Linked DNA regions of Homo sapiens: all the other regions are reported to be linked to region 3. The links are microRNA targets in miRTarBase. Many come from high-throughput screens and were not tested one by one. Region 3 holds a microRNA gene; each other region holds the end of a gene's coding sequence.

The links. The annotated mature microRNA hsa-miR-569 reads AGUUAAUGAAUCCUGGAAAGU and lies in region 3 at 3,350-3,370, shown strand. An mRNA with a match to its seed (bases 2 to 7 or 8) in the 3' UTR can be bound and repressed. Matches are read on the target gene's strand: a 7mer-m8 pairs with bases 2 to 8, a 7mer-A1 pairs with bases 2 to 7 and ends in A, and an 8mer does both.
Region 1: miRTarBase lists SPI1 as a target of hsa-miR-569. Seed matches in the 3' UTR shown: 7mer-m8 at 1,094-1,100.
Region 2: the mRNA of TXNL1 is a reported target of hsa-miR-569. Seed matches in the 3' UTR shown: 7mer-m8 at 2,138-2,144.

Annotation. Positions count from the first base shown.
Region 1 is chr11:47,350,929-47,355,996 of GRCh38, reverse strand. SPI1 (Spi-1 proto-oncogene) reads left to right here. Exons shown (of 5, transcript NM_003120.3): 5 at 451-1,137. The coding sequence ends at 770. MYBPC3 (myosin binding protein C3) reads left to right here and starts at 3,295. Exons shown (of 35, transcript NM_000256.3): 1 at 3,295-3,374; 2 at 4,492-4,758. The coding sequence starts at 3,350. RefSeq lists enhancers at 3,671-4,651, 4,652-5,068.
Region 2 is chr18:56,598,639-56,603,706 of GRCh38, reverse strand. It overlaps TXNL1 (thioredoxin like 1), which reads left to right. Exons shown (of 8, transcript NM_004786.3): 8 at 651-5,068. The coding sequence ends at 680. Among named protein-coding and RNA genes, the nearest start is that of TXNL1, 37 kb to the left of the region's middle.
Region 3 is chr3:171,104,976-171,110,048 of GRCh38, reverse strand. It overlaps MIR569 (microRNA 569), which reads left to right and starts at 3,290; the gene lies at 3,290-3,385. TNIK (TRAF2 and NCK interacting kinase) reads left to right here. Exons shown (of 33, transcript NM_015028.4): 20 at 1,887-1,984; 21 at 2,843-2,866. It overlaps LOC105374216 (a long non-coding RNA gene), which reads right to left. Exons shown (of 5, transcript XR_007096163.1): 2 at 2,674-2,855; 3 at 2,133-2,211.

The DNA of each region.
Region 1 (5,068 bases), not on the chromosome of region 3:
ACGTGTGAGCGTGTGTGGGTGTGAGCATGAGTGAGTGGTTGCATTGTGTTTAAGCATGAGTGTGAGTGGGTGTGAGAAGGTGCGTTGTGTGAGCACGTGTGTGAGTGGGTGTGGGCGTGATGTGTGAGCATGTGTAAGGAGGTGTGGGTGCGTTATGTGGATGTGAGCATGTGTGTGTACTTGGTGCACTGTGTGGGTGCGAGTGTGTGCGCGTGGGGGGGGTGAGTGCGTGGGTGTGAGTGGGTGTGTGTGAACGCCTGTGTGTGCGCAAGCATGTGTGTGTGTGTGAGTGTGGGTGCGTTGTGTATGCACGCCCGGCGCGGGCTGGGGCAGCCGTTCCCCTGCCCTTCCCGGCCACCCCGTCCCCGGGCCCCTGTGCGTACGCAAGGCGGTGGGGGCGGCTCCCATGTGGGCCCCGGGCCCCCTCCCACCGGGCCCTCCCCCCCGCAGGCAGCAAGAAGAAGATCCGCCTGTACCAGTTCCTGTTGGACCTGCTCCGCAGCGGCGACATGAAGGACAGCATCTGGTGGGTGGACAAGGACAAGGGCACCTTCCAGTTCTCGTCCAAGCACAAGGAGGCGCTGGCGCACCGCTGGGGCATCCAGAAGGGCAACCGCAAGAAGATGACCTACCAGAAGATGGCGCGCGCGCTGCGCAACTACGGCAAGACGGGCGAGGTCAAGAAGGTGAAGAAGAAGCTCACCTACCAGTTCAGCGGCGAAGTGCTGGGCCGCGGGGGCCTGGCCGAGCGGCGCCACCCGCCCCACTGAGCCCGCAGCCCCCGCCGGGCCCCGCCAGGCCTCCCCGCTGGCCATAGCATTAAGCCCTCGCCCGGCCCGGACACAGGGAGGACGCTCCCGGGGCCCAGAGGCAGGACTGTGGCGGGCCGGGCCTCGCCTCACCCGCCCCCTCCCCCCACTCCAGGCCCCCTCCACATCCCGCTTCGCCTCCCTCCAGGACTCCACCCCGGCTCCCGGACGCCAGCTGGGCGTCAGACCCCACCGGGGCAACCTTGCAGAGGACGACCCGGGGTACTGCCTTGGGAGTCTCAAGTCCGTATGTAAATCAGATCTCCCCTCTCACCCCTCCCACCCATTAACCTCCTCCCAAAAAACAAGTAAAGTTATTCTCAATCCATCCTCTTGCAGCACAGAGTCTCTTTTAAAATTTGTTGTGTATCTCTTTTGGCCCCTGTGTGCTGCGACGTCTCTTTTTGTCATTTGTCCATCGGGTGTTTACCGAGGACTGTACCCAATGCTGGACCCTGGGAACATGAGGACCAATGACACAGAGCGCCTGAACAGGAGTTAGAGTTTGGTGGAAAGAACAAGTCCTCAATTGTGATTAGGAGAGCAGATCCTATTTAAAAGCTCTCTACTCCTGATAGTTGTTGTTTTTAAGCCTTGATGAGGTTTGAACTCATGATGATGATGATGATGATGATGATGACCATGACCAGCAACAACATTTGATATTCTGGTCAATTAGTATCTGCCAACCTTGAGATGTGGAGTCTAATATCACTCCATTTTATAGAATGGGAAACTGAGGCTTGTAGAGGTCAAATTATTTCCCCAAGGTCACAGCCGTTGAGTGGCCAAGTTGGATCACACTCCAGGTCTGTCCCGACACGTCAACATGGAGTGGGAGGCCTTGCTTATCTGGAAGAGGATACTCTTCAGCATTCCGAGGACAGGAATTAAGCCCCAAAGCTCCTGTGGGCCGCAAAGGGTTCTCACGAGCTGCACGCCCAGCAGGACTTTAGACCCAAGTGAATCCCTGGTGGGACCCCCAGGTTCTATTTGCTTTCTAGCTCCTAGCCACAGCAGGGGAGAAACAGACCAAGCTGAGCGGAGAAGCCTGTAAGTCCTGTGTTTTCCTCCAGACGGTAGCAAGTAGTGGCAGTAGACAGCCTGGGAGTGAGGGACTTCCCAACGCTGTCAAAGACCTTAGGGAACCCAGATTCTGGGGCCATTATCGTAGGGACAAATACCCGCCCCACACCTCCTCAACCCCAGAGGGCTCACTGCAGCCCAACCCTGCAGCTCCCTAGTCCTACTGCAGGGCCACAAGAGAAGGCAAAATGGTGTTGTGTCTTCATTCTTCTATTTTTATTTTTTTTTTTTTGAGACAGGGTCTTACTTTGTTGCCCAGGCTGGAGTGCAGTGGCACGAACATGGCTCACTGCAGCCCTGACCCCCCGGGCTCAAGTGATTCTCCTGCCTCAGCCTCCCGAGCATCTGGGACTACAGGTGTGCGTCACATGCCTGACTGATTTTTGTATTTTTTGTACAGATGGGGTTTCATCATGTTGCCCAGGCTGGTCTCGAACTCCTGAGCTCAAGTGATCTGCCCGCCTCAGCCTCCCAAAGTGCTGGGATTACAGGTGTGAGCCACTTCGCCCAGCCCATTTTTATTTTTTTATTATTATTCTTTGAGATATTAATAATAAAAAATAATAATAAATAATATTTTTATTATTATTATCACTCTGTCACCCAGGCTGCAGTGCAGTGGTGCGATTTTGGCTCACTGCAGCCCGGAACTCCTTGGACTCAAGCGATCCTCCCACCTCAGCCTCCTGGGTAGCTGATACTACAGGTCCACACCACCACACCTGGCTAATTTGTGTGTGTGTGTGTATTTATTTTATTTTTTATTTTTTTAGTAGAGATGGGGTTTTGCCATGTTGCCCAGGCTGGTCTCAAACTCCTGGCCTCAAATAATCTGCCTGCCTCGGCCTCCCAAAGTGCTGGGATTACAGATGAGCCACCACACCCGGCCTAACATTTTTAAAATTATAAACCCACTTCATACGTGTGACAATCCTGTGCAGTGGGTGCTGCTTTCACCCACCCCGCTTTACAGATGAGGAAACCAGGTGCTTTGAGATTAAAGAGATGGCAGTGCTAGGACTCAGAGACACCCTGGCCCCAGGGTCTGTGGACATGACCACTGCCTGAACTGCCTGCGAGGATGCTCCTGACCCGTTAGCCTTAGGGTTATGGGCCCAGCATGCTCCCACCGTACAATTTGCTGTAAGAGGGACACACACGGGGCTTGGAGTACCCCTGAGGCTTGCCAAAGGTTGGGGAGGCAGAATTGTGCTGCGGGGGGTGAGGGGGGAAGGGACAGGAGCCAGCCAGGGACAATGTGGCCCTACCTTCTCCCTGGAGAGACCTCAGCTCTCTGGAATTCATCTATATTTAGCAGGTGGCTGGACAGGAGGCAGATAAGCAGAGCCTGGGGAGGGGGGAGGTCCCCATATATAGTGGGAAGGACAGGACCCCACTCAGTCCCTCTTTGGGTGACCTGTGCCTGCTTCGTGCCTGGTGTGACGTCTCTCAGGATGCCTGAGCCGGGGAAGAAGCCAGGTAGCTTTAGGACTGGGGTTGGGTCTAAGTGTGGGAGCAGGGGGGTGTCTACAATTGGGGAGCAGGGCTAGGAGGGAGTTCTTGAGGGGGTTGACGAGGACGTGGCCTCTGAGCCCCAGGACAGGGGCAGCCAGTCCTCCAGGGTCCTTTTTTGATTCTCGGTTTCTTTTTCCCATCCCTCTGATGAGAGGTGAAGGTAAACCCAAGGTCAGGGACGCAGAGAGGGGACACAGCCAAGACAGGAAGCACCCGGGGTCAACCCATTCTGAGAATGCAAAGGGACCCCTTCCCTGTCCCATTGCCTTCACCTTCCACAGCAAGGTTCCCCGCGGACAGAGCCCACGTTTAGTATGGAGCTGAGCCAGGCTCACGGCATGCCTTCAGACCAGTCTCTACCCACTATGGGTCTCAGTCTCCCAACCTGGGGTGCCGGGGGTGGTGGTGGCATTGGGTTGGTTCCTCCTGGCTGTGACATTATCTGCTTCATGAGCCTGTACGGTGTGGCCCCCATGTTGAGGGTGACACAGCCCCTCTTCTCTGAGAGAGGACAGTCAGGAGCCCCTGAACCCAGGCCAAGGGCAGGGAAAATCACAGCCCAGGGACCTGGGCCTGGGCTGTGCCCTTATGAAGGTTGTCCAGGGCAGAGATCCAGGTCCCCATCCCCCAGCGCCCTCCCAGGCCAGCTTTATCTCAGTTGCTGATACCCAGCCTGAGGTCCTTGGAGGACAAATTTGGCCACATTCCAAGTAGGCAGACTTCCCCGCCCCCTGCCAAGGGCCCGAAATGGTTGGGGGAAAGGGAGCTGGGTTCATCACGGGTGTCTCCAAGCAGGGAAAGTGGACACATGCAGAAAAAGTCTTGTTGGGAGGTCAGGACCACAGCCCTGGCTCTCCCGACTGCTAGCTGTGTGATCTTGGAGGAGCCGCTTAGCTTCTCTGAGCCTCAGTGTCCTCCTCTGAGAAATGAACAGAATAACTGCAACTACCTCAGAGAACTGGTAGAGTATTACGTGAGGGGATGCATAGAAAGTGCTAGCACAGTATTTACTGAGAGGGGCTGCAGGGGCGGGGTGCACGCTCCAACCAGGGGCCGCTGTAGCCTCCACCTGGCCCTTCAGTCTCAGCTTTTAGCAAGAAGCCACGGTCAGTGGAAGTGGCCGCAGGCAGCCCTGCCGTGTTCGAGGCCGAGACAGAGCGGGCAGGAGTGAAGGTGCGCTGGCAGCGCGGAGGCAGTGACATCAGCGCCAGCAACAAGTACGGCCTGGCCACAGAGGGCACACGGCATACGCTGACAGTGCGGGAAGTGGGCCCTGCCGACCAGGGATCTTACGCAGTCATTGCTGGCTCCTCCAAGGTCAAGTTCGACCTCAAGGTCATAGAGGCAGGTAAGATCCTGATCAGCCTTCCCTGAGGTTTGGGCTGCTGGGGGAGGGGCAGCCCAGCGACTCTCCATCCATCCAGGGAACAGGAGGTGCTTTCACACTTTCTTGCCTTTGCTGTGGCTGTGCCCCCCGCCAGGAACGCCCTTTCCCCCTTTTCTGCACATGACCTCTCTGAGTACCCCCATGTGCCATCCTGGCTTGTTCCAGCCATGGGGTAGGTGGGAGAGATGAACAAGACACAACCCCACTCTCCCCCTGCAGACCTCCCTGGGGAGATGACCCTGCACAGACGGCCGGGAAGCCCCAGGAGCTG
Region 2 (5,068 bases), not on the chromosome of region 3:
TTTTATTCTTCACATTTTTATGCTGCCACATATATAGCAACCAGAATGTTTTTTATAATCCTCCAGTAGAGGATTTTTCTAATCATTGACAGAAACAAGGTTTATTCATTTCATTTTTAATAGTACTCTTAAAGTAACCAGGATCTTTTTCTTAAACCAGAAAAAATTAGTCACTTTTAATCTGTTTTCATTGCATGTCAGTGTATTGAGGGGGAAAGTCTGGAAATTTGCTATATTGGGCATGAAGGACATGAGTTTAACATACGCTTCTAATTCCAGATTCTTTTGTGATCGACATTTGATTTCTAACTATCTAAAAATAGTATGTCAAATATGTTTTACTCATATAGCATCATTTTTTAAATTAACTTCTCTAAACTTTCAACCTTGTTTTTAAAAATTGCTATTTAAAAAAAAAAAAAAAACTGTGTGAAACCAAAAATAGCCTGCATGTGTTTTATTTTTAATTCCTTGTGGCTGGGATTGGAGGGGAGGTCACAGTTTGCTTCAACAGTGAAAATACATTGCATGCCAGAAAAGATCCAAGGATAAAAATTAATACCAAGGTTTTAAACTGATTATTAGTATTTTTAATAACTCATATTTAAAATCAATAGGATGTACATATAAACTTATTTTTGTTTTTCTAGGTAGTTGGCAAAAAAGGAGAAAGCCACTAAGGTACAAAAGACACTGGACAACCATATTGCAATCAGATCTACAGCTCCTGGATAATTGCTTGATTCTCGCCAGAGACTGTCAATGTTTCATTCATTGCCATTACCAATAAATCATTGCTTTTGTTCAGATGGTATCACTAGTGTTTCCATTGTAATCTTGACACATGCAATTGTAAATAAAAGTCACCACTTTTGCCAAGCTTAATTTTTGTCTTTCTAAATCAGTATTTTCTCTTTCCATGTATTTGAAAACTGGTTAACTTCTGATTTTAGTAGAGACTTAAGTGTCTGGTAGTATATTGATTGAAAGCCAGTTTCTTTAGAAAAGGAGAAACTGTTCTAGGGAATTAAGAAGTACATGTGTACACATTCATGGCAAGTTATTTTGATAAGTGAACCTGGAACAGCTAACCATGTTAAATTATTACTGCATTTTTATTAAAGGACATTTGTATATCTGAGCTATGGAAATTACTCAAATTATAAATTAGAAGAAATAAACAGGTTTAATGAGATTTAGCTACTCTTACCTAAAACTTAGCTAATGGGTCCACAGATTCTTTCTTGGTATATATCAAGATTTTAATCTCTTCTGGTAAACTTTAAAATTTGAGTCAGCCTTTTTTTTTTTTTTTTTTTTTTTAACTAATAGAAGAATGTGGAAATCAGACAGTTGGGGAAAAAATACAGCATAGTGAATTCAGAAAACAGGAATTGGCCAGGTGTGGTGGCTAATGTCTGTAATCCCAGTACTTTGGGAGGCCAAGGCGGGCGAATCACCAGAGGTCAGGAGTTCGAGTCCAGCTTGGCCAACATGGTGAAACCTCGTCTCTACTAAAAATACAAAAATTAGCCAGGCATGGTGGCGGGTGTCTGTAATCCCAGCTACTTGGGAGGCTGAGACAGAAGAATCGGCTGAACCCGGGAGGCAGAGGTTGCAGTGAGCTGAGATTGCGCCATTGCGCCCCAGCCTGAGCGACAAGAGCAAAACTCCGTCTCCAAAAAAAAAAGGGAATTATTACCCTTAATCAAGTATTTATTACCTGAACTACCAAAACGTGCAGTGTAAATATACAGAGAACATGATTTAAGGTTGAAAATGAGGTGCTCAAATAGAAATGTTTAAAAGGTCTTTCACAAAAGGCTGGTAAAATACCTATTCGTTACCTTTTTTATCTTAAAATTGTAATCTAAAAAGTATTGGTAGTTTTAATTTTAAAATTTCTGAGTATTTTGAAAACTATTTTTAAAGAGTACATAAGACTGTAAAATTGTGATTCAGTTAAACATTTGAGGGCATTCTTGTCTAGGAATATGGTAGAGATACCATTTGCCTTTGTGAGAGCAGTGTGTTTATACTTGTTTATGAAAAAATTCTACAGAAGTTTTAGTGTTGAAAGAGTCCCTTTCTGAAACCCAAGTGTCATTAGATAGTTTAGTTCATTTGTATATGGGCACATTAACTGGTCTGTGATGATCTTAACACTCCTTAAATAGACCATCTCAGATTAATCACATCTGAAATTAAGGATAAGATTAATATGCAGGGTTTTGGTTTACAGTTTTGTACACTTAACCTTTCTGAGTAATTGTTAAAGTGCCTCATCCTAAGTATTGCTGACCTTTTCCTATTTATACTTGATAGTTTGAAAACCCAGTGAAACAAATTTCGTATTTGTAAAGGATTGGACATCAGATTTATATTGTCTATGTGACTCTTCTATAACAATTAGTTGCAGTATGCAAGTATTACATAATTCAAATTGTAAATAGTGAAAAATGAACGTTTATAGGTAACTATAACGTTTCACTTAATGGGAAATCTTACTATTATAAATGTGCATAATTGGCATTTAAAATATCAAACTGAAATGCTGTTTTCTCCTAAAACAGTATATATATATACACACATATGTATATGTAACATTTATATATAACACTGAATTTTCCAGATGAATAAGAGCATTTGAAAAAATGTAACTCTAGTTATTTTAACTGAAGTTATTTATTAGTGCATCTAGAAAACTGGTATTCAGTTTCTTGTTCATTTTGTCGGACATAGCAAAAAAGAATTTCATGATCTCTGTATTTTGATACATTGACATCAGGTGCTTTTGATGAGAAACAACAGTGAAATATCGTGTTCATAATAGAAACGAAAGTCAGGTATTGCAGTAGGAAGTCTTTGTCAGCTTAATGCTGAAGCCAAGAGTAGCACAAGGTACCACATTCTTGTGCCCACGACAGGCTTTTATAATCCTTCTGAGTTCTCTTTGACATCAAGCCCCACGTTGTTCCCCAGTCTCAATATTCTGTTGGAGGCAGCCACGTAACAATTAGAGTTGAAACCTGCCCCACGTTGTTCCCCAGTCTCAATATACTGTTGGAGGCAGCCACGTAACAATTAGAGTTGAAACCTGCCCCACGTTGTTCCCCAGTCTCAATATACTGTTGGAGGCAGCCACATAACAATTAGAGTTGAAACCTGCCCCACGTTGTTCCCCAGTCTCAATATTCTGTTGGAGGCAGCCACGTAACAATTAGAGTTGAAACCTGCCCCACATTGTTCCCCAGTCTCAATATTCTGTTGGAGGCAGCCACGTAACAATTAGAGTTGAAACCTGCCCCACTTTGTTCCCCAGTCTCAATATTCTGTTGGAGGCAGCCACGTAACAATTAGAGTTGAAACCTGCCCCACATTGTTCCCCAGTCTCAATATTCTGTTGGAGGCAGCCACTTAACAATTAGAGTTGAAACCTGTCTGCCATCCTTTGTCTCAATGTTTGAGGATGTATGCAGTGTTTTTGGCAGCGATTATAGGAATGCAGTTGTTTATTTGGCCTCAGCAGTTTATTTATGGCTGCAATTAATATCCCTGATCATGGGCTTTTAAACCTAAAATAGTTCAGATCCTCCCTTGTTCCTCTTAATGTCTAAAAGCTTTGATTCTGTAATAAGAATAAAGTGTTGGAGTTGAATAAATTAGTTACACCCTTTGTAAGCTTTAAAAACATGAAATTTAAGGCTTACTCATGTTGCTTGTATTGATACTCATATAGTTCAATTTAGTAGGTTAATTTTTGTGTTAGGTATATCTCTTCTGGAACTGATAATTTGTAATCTTAGACTATTTTTTTTTTAAGATAAGTAACTTAGAGTAAGAAATCCAGCTGGGAACAGTGGCTCATGCCTGTAATCCCAGCATTTTGGGAGGCCGAGGCGGCTGGATCACTTGAGGTCAGGAGTTTGAGACCAGCCTGGCTAACATGGAGAAACCCTGTCTCTACTAAAAATACAAAAAATTAGCCAGGCATGGTGGCAGGTGCCACACCCAGCTACTTGGGAGGCTGAGGCAGTAGAATCGCTTGAACCCGGGAGGCGGAGGTTGCAGTGAGCCAAGATCGCATGACTGCACACTAGCCCGGGCAACAGAGTGAGACTGTCTCAAAAGAAAAAAAAAAAAAATCCATTCACAGAACTGCTAAAGAAAAACTAGAGGAATATTTTGCTCATTTAGCTTTAAAACTCATTATTAGAGGTGTGTATTTTACAGTTTTGTAAATATAGATTATGCTTTATAATACACATAAAGCAAGTATATATAACATGCATATAGTAAATAAATTTTAAAATATTGACTATTCCCCAGTTAAGCCTATACTTCTTAAGGAAGACTACTGATGTCATTTTAAGCATGTTTCAAAATTCAAGTTTTATTTTTGATCAATAAGGTTTTTTTTTTTTTTTAACATGCTCAGCACTATAGGAATAAGAGGACAGTGGAGATTTGTAGGCTAATAAGATCGCTTTTAAACTTTGTGGTCCATGTAAAATTATTAGTTGGAGAATGTGTAATTAGAGAACTATAAGATAAAGAGATAACCTTTAGAATTTGAATGTACTAAAATTGTACACAGCTTGGAATATTAAAATCTTAAGGATATGCAATGTTAAAACTGCTAGAGTATTTTTCCTTCGTGCTTGCTATGCTTCTCTATGGGAAGAGGAATTTTATTTTGGAATTATTTCTAAGTTGAACAGACCAGAATTAATTGTGAAAACATGATCTGTTGGTTTATAATTGGACACGCATTTGGAGATACTGGCTCATCATACTACCTAGGAGCAAAATCTCTGAAGTTTGAATCCCTGCTCTTCCACTTGTTAGCTGTGTCATCTTGAGCAAGTAACATCCTTCAGAGCTCAAATTTCTTCTTGTGTAAAAATAGGAACATCTATCTCTTAGACTTGTTCTGAAGATGCGCCTTACTTTGTATCTGGAACAAGGATAAGTATCTTCTGTATCCTGCTCTCAGCTGTCACTGCTTTTTAGGCCATCATTACTTGCTTGGCATACTGCAGTGCCTCCTAATTGTCTCTTTGTTTCT
Region 3 (5,073 bases):
CCTGTAATCCCAGCTACTCGGGAGGCTGAGGCAGGAGAATCGCTTGAACCCAGGAGGCAGAGGTTGTGGTGAGCCAAGATCACGCCATTGTACTCCAGCCTTGGCAACAAGAATGAAACTCCATCAAAAAAAAAAAAAATTGTTGACTCCTCTGGTTATTCCTATTAAGTAAAAATTAGCCTCTCTAAATATTTAATTCAAATTATTCATCATTGTTTAGTTTCCAGTAATGGGGAGGCCTATGAAAAACATTATTATTTCCAGGTGCTGATACATAATAATACATTGTTTCTAGCTAGTTAAAATTCACTCCTTCTGAATCAACTTCTTCAGAAGATAATTTTGCTTCTAAGTGATGAAGACCAGTACTTTAATTGCAATTTGACAAATATTAACATACTTATAAGTTTCTCTGTCTGATGAAAGCCTCATGAGAACCTTCAGTTCTTTTTTCTTTCTTAGACTCTTTATTACATACCACCTCCTAATACCCTTAGTTTATCTCCTAACACCCTTTCAGGGTTTTAAATAAATCACTCTATTTCCATTTTAAAAAGCTTGATATCTAACATGTGATTGATGTTCACGTCTCTGGATTGGGATATGGACTAGCCAACAGCTGCCTCTATATGCATTCTTCTGATTAGTGGCACATCTCAGAAGTATCTACTGTATGTCTTTGTTGCCTTGATCGAAATATAAATTTCCTTAATTTAGAAAACTACCAGATGTAGTGGCTTACGCCTGTAGTCCTAGGTACCCGGAAGGCCGAGGTAGAAGAATTGCTTAAGCTCAGGAGTTCAAGGCTGCAGTGAGCTATGATGGCCCCACTGCGCTCCAGCCTAGGTGACAGAGCCCCATCTCTAAAACACCTAAAGAAAGAAAACAGCCATTCTGTTATCTTTTTTCTATTTATAGGCAACTTCATATTCTTAGAGCAAATATTTAAATAAACCAAACTTAAACGCATACCATTTTAATTCTCTGGTCTGGTTCAGGCTTACTTTTTATTTCCTTCAGCCCCTCGTTCTTCCGGATTAAAAGGGCTGTTGTATCCCTGGTATGTCCCTGTCCAAGAAAGACTACTTTTTAAGAAATAAAAACCACCTCTCCTACCCTAAATTGCATCTTCTCTATCTGTAAGCTCATAGACTGCAAAGATGCTATTCACTCTGCAGCTGTCAGGGTCCCCTTGACCTTGCTCTGTACCTCCAGCCTAGGGCCCTTCTCCTATAACAACCCCCTTCTTGCCCTCACCTCATTCTTTTATTTTTAAAGGGCTGAGACCACTCCCATCTCCAATTAAAAACCGTTCCACCAAATAAAATAAATTTTTTTTCCCTCACAAAATTTCAACAAAATAACCTATCCTGATTGGACAAATGATAAAAGAAGAAAACAAGCATAGAACCTTAGAGGCTCATTTAGCATAGTGACTGAGAATAGGACTTTCAGAAATCAGAACTCCAGCTCTGTCTATAATTTCAGTGTGACCTCCGGACAGTTGTGTCATCTTTGTAAATCTGTGTTCTGTAAAATAGGAGAATAGTGCCATATCATTGGGTTGGAGTGAGGATTAAATGAGATAATTGACATGGAAAGCATTTAGCACTATGCCTGACACATAAGAAGTGCTCTAGTGGTGATAGTACTTGCTACATTTCTTTTTTTTTTAATTGTTACTAGTGATTTCCAGGTCACAAGCCTAAATGTGTTTGCCTGAACATTATATTTTTCATGGATGTTTCTTGAGGATTTGCCCAGGTGAATGACGTGTCCACTGAGTAATCTCAATGTGATGACACATCACAGATAATTCATTCAGAACTTGAGCCAGCACTTTTTGATGGCCATCTCTTTCTTGGTCCTCTGTTTTTTTCCTCTAGCCAACAGTAAGTCAGAAGGATCACCTGTGCTCCCCCATGAGCCTGCGAAGGTGAAACCAGAAGAATCCAGGGACATTACCCGGCCCAGTCGACCAGCTGTGAGTGCTTTTCTCTCCAAGAGTTTTGAACTCTTAATTTACCAGAGAACCCACAGGATTAAGTAGTTGGGGATACACTCATGATGCAAACAAAAATTGTTGAGATTAGTAAGAACGGATGCTAGAAACATCCCGAAGAAAGTCATACCTGATTAGGAAAGAACCGAAGAGATCTTGGATTGACTCCTCTGCCTTTGGCTATTTGCTGATCATTAGCAGTCCTTTAACTATAAAACAGGAAGAGAAACAACTCCTATCATTCCATAATTTCTACTCAGCAACTTTGGCAAAAAGATGTTGAAAGTAGCAGTTAAAGAGACTTGGGTACTTTCTATGAACTTCTCTAATCTCTTCTACTCTTTCCCCATATTATTTTCCACATGAATTAATATTACAGTTTTTCTGCTATTTTTCATGCCTCCAGGACTATATTTTCTGGACCAAACTTTTTAAGCAGGGTCCAACAGGCGTCGTAACAACTTAGCATCCAGCTTCACTGCTGTAACATGATAGACCCCCAGGTAGCCTTAAAGAGGAGTATGGAGGCTAAAATTTGAAAGTTGAAAATTAATTTGGGATGAATTACTATCCATTTTTTCTATTTAAATCTCTTGAGAATCTTTTCTGTAAAATGAACGTGAAGCTTTTTGGTTTACTCTTTTTTAACATCTTAAAGTAACGACGTATACCGAGAGTAATAATGAAGGGATTTGCATCATTCTGGATTGACATTCTCTTCGCCCTTTTGTATTTATCAGTTGCGTACTAACAATTACAATTTTGTGTCTAATCTGCTGCCTTTCTGCTGGCTTTTCCTCCTTCTGTGGATTCTTCTGGATTGGGTTCCTCTCATTTCAGAGCTACAAAAAAGCTATAGATGAGGTTAGTATTACCTTTTCTTGGTCATGCTTTCACAAAATGTAAATATTAAACTTATTTCCTAATGTTGACATTCAGAAAGGTGGCCAATGGGAGCAATCAGCTGGGAGGAGATTTGTAGCAATCTGCTGGGAGGAGTGCCCCTTCAAATGGAAGCCAACTTTAAGACCCTCAAACCTACCCATATAGCTTCAGAGACCTTCCTTCTAAGCTAAAATGTCACTTTTCCAATGTTCCAGTCTGGCTAATGACAAGTATTCATGCTTTATTAATGGCAGTTTCTCCTTCCAGTATCTTCCAATAGCAAACCTGTACTTGCCAGCCTTGCTAGGGAATGGCTCTCAGCAGTTTTACTAACAAGAAAAGAGACATCATTCTAGGACACTCCAAATTTAGAGTGTGTGATTTGTGAACAAGGAGTTAGTAGGTATTGTTAGATTAATTTTGTGGGACATTAACAACAGCATCAGAAGCAACATCAGCTTTAGTTAATGAATCCTGGAAAGTTAAGTGACTTTATTTCCTTGTCTGTGGAGACGTTTTCCATTAGAAAAATATATGGCTTTGTCAGTTGTAGGTAGCTTGCTAAGAAGGATGACTGCCTTACTGCTATTTGTCAGACCTGCATGAATACAGCAGAGTAGAATTTGTTTTTTTAAGATCCAGGCCTTGCAAAGAGTCCTAAATGCATGGAATCTAAAGACTACCATCATGGCTTTAAAGCTGTAGCTCTGCTGAGCACTACTTTTGTGAAATTTAATGGAAAAAGCACTGGCTTTGAGGTCAGCAAGCTGCATTCAAATCTTGGCTCCCCCAGTAAATAACTGGCTGAGACTAGTCTCATAACCTCACTGGGCCAGAGTTTCCTCATCCATAAAATGAGAATAAAAACACCTCCCCATCCCACTTACAAGATTGTTTAGGATCATTTAAGGTAATGTGTGTGAAAGCATTTTATGTGTAACATTGCTGCAGAAAGCCAAGGGTTTGATTAAGGTTTGGGCCAGAGGCATGGAGCTATTTTGGCAGGTAGGAGAAGCATGTTTCCATGTATCTGGTCTTCACCGAAGAGCCTCACTTTTTCAGACTTATGGCCACCTCACCACCCAGAGTGACGAGACAGTTATGATCATAGTTGAAGGATTGTTGCTTATAAAAGAATGAGACTCCGCATGTTTGCGGTGTGTGGATGGCATTTATAGAAAGGGAAGAGGAGAGTGTGTTTTTAATTGCTCTGTGCCGTGGCCTTGCTTGCCCCTCTCTCTCATAATAGTGAGAAGGGCAGGGATTATCACAACTTTTGTCAGTTTTCTCCCAGAACAGGTAAAGAAAGACAGTGAAGTTCTGGTGCTACAGTTGCCAATAAAATGGCTGTGCATGTGCAGAACTCAAGAGGAATTACATGAGTTCAGAAATTGGCTTGGAGGGGCCGTCATTAAGGAAAAGGCTCTCACAGATTTCATCTGATTAACCCAGAATATTTTAGGCTTTGAAAAATTGCTCTACTTTTTTTTGGTGTACTGCACCACACTGGACAGAGATGAGAGGGGGCAATGGAGGTATACGTAATTACAAATAATTGAGGGGGTGTGAGCTGCATACTAAAATCTCTGGAGCCATGTATGGTTGGAAAAGCCCTCCAGGTGACTATCCTGATCTCTTGAGTATCACTGATCCAAACCACTAAAATAAAGCGGTTCTACCTAACCCAGTGGCTCTCAACCACGGCTGATTCCTCCACTCCTCTTCCCTTAGGAGACATTTGGCAAAATCTGGAGACAGTTTTGGTTGTCACCACTTCAGAGTAGCAGGCAGTGGTACTGGCATCTTGTGGATAGAGCAGAGGGGTGCTGCTGCCAAACATCCCGTGGTGCACAGAGAACTCCCTACAATAAAGAATTATCTGGCCCAAAATGTCAACAGGGCCATAATTGAGAAACTTTGAACTACACCTTTCTCCCTTCTCCATTCATAGGTTTTGGTAGGGCTTCCCTCTCAACGACTGTTTTTGCAATTTAGATAACTGGGATTGAAATGAAAAATCTGAAAATCACTTTTGAAATATTGTCGCTTGTTATTGCTAATGATTTAACTTTTTATAAAAATTAATTTGGGGGAGTGTACATTAATGTGACATTGCTTTCTAATGGAATATGAGATTTTGCAGCATAGTCTATTTAATATAGTCTTTGAATATAGTCTTTGAAAAT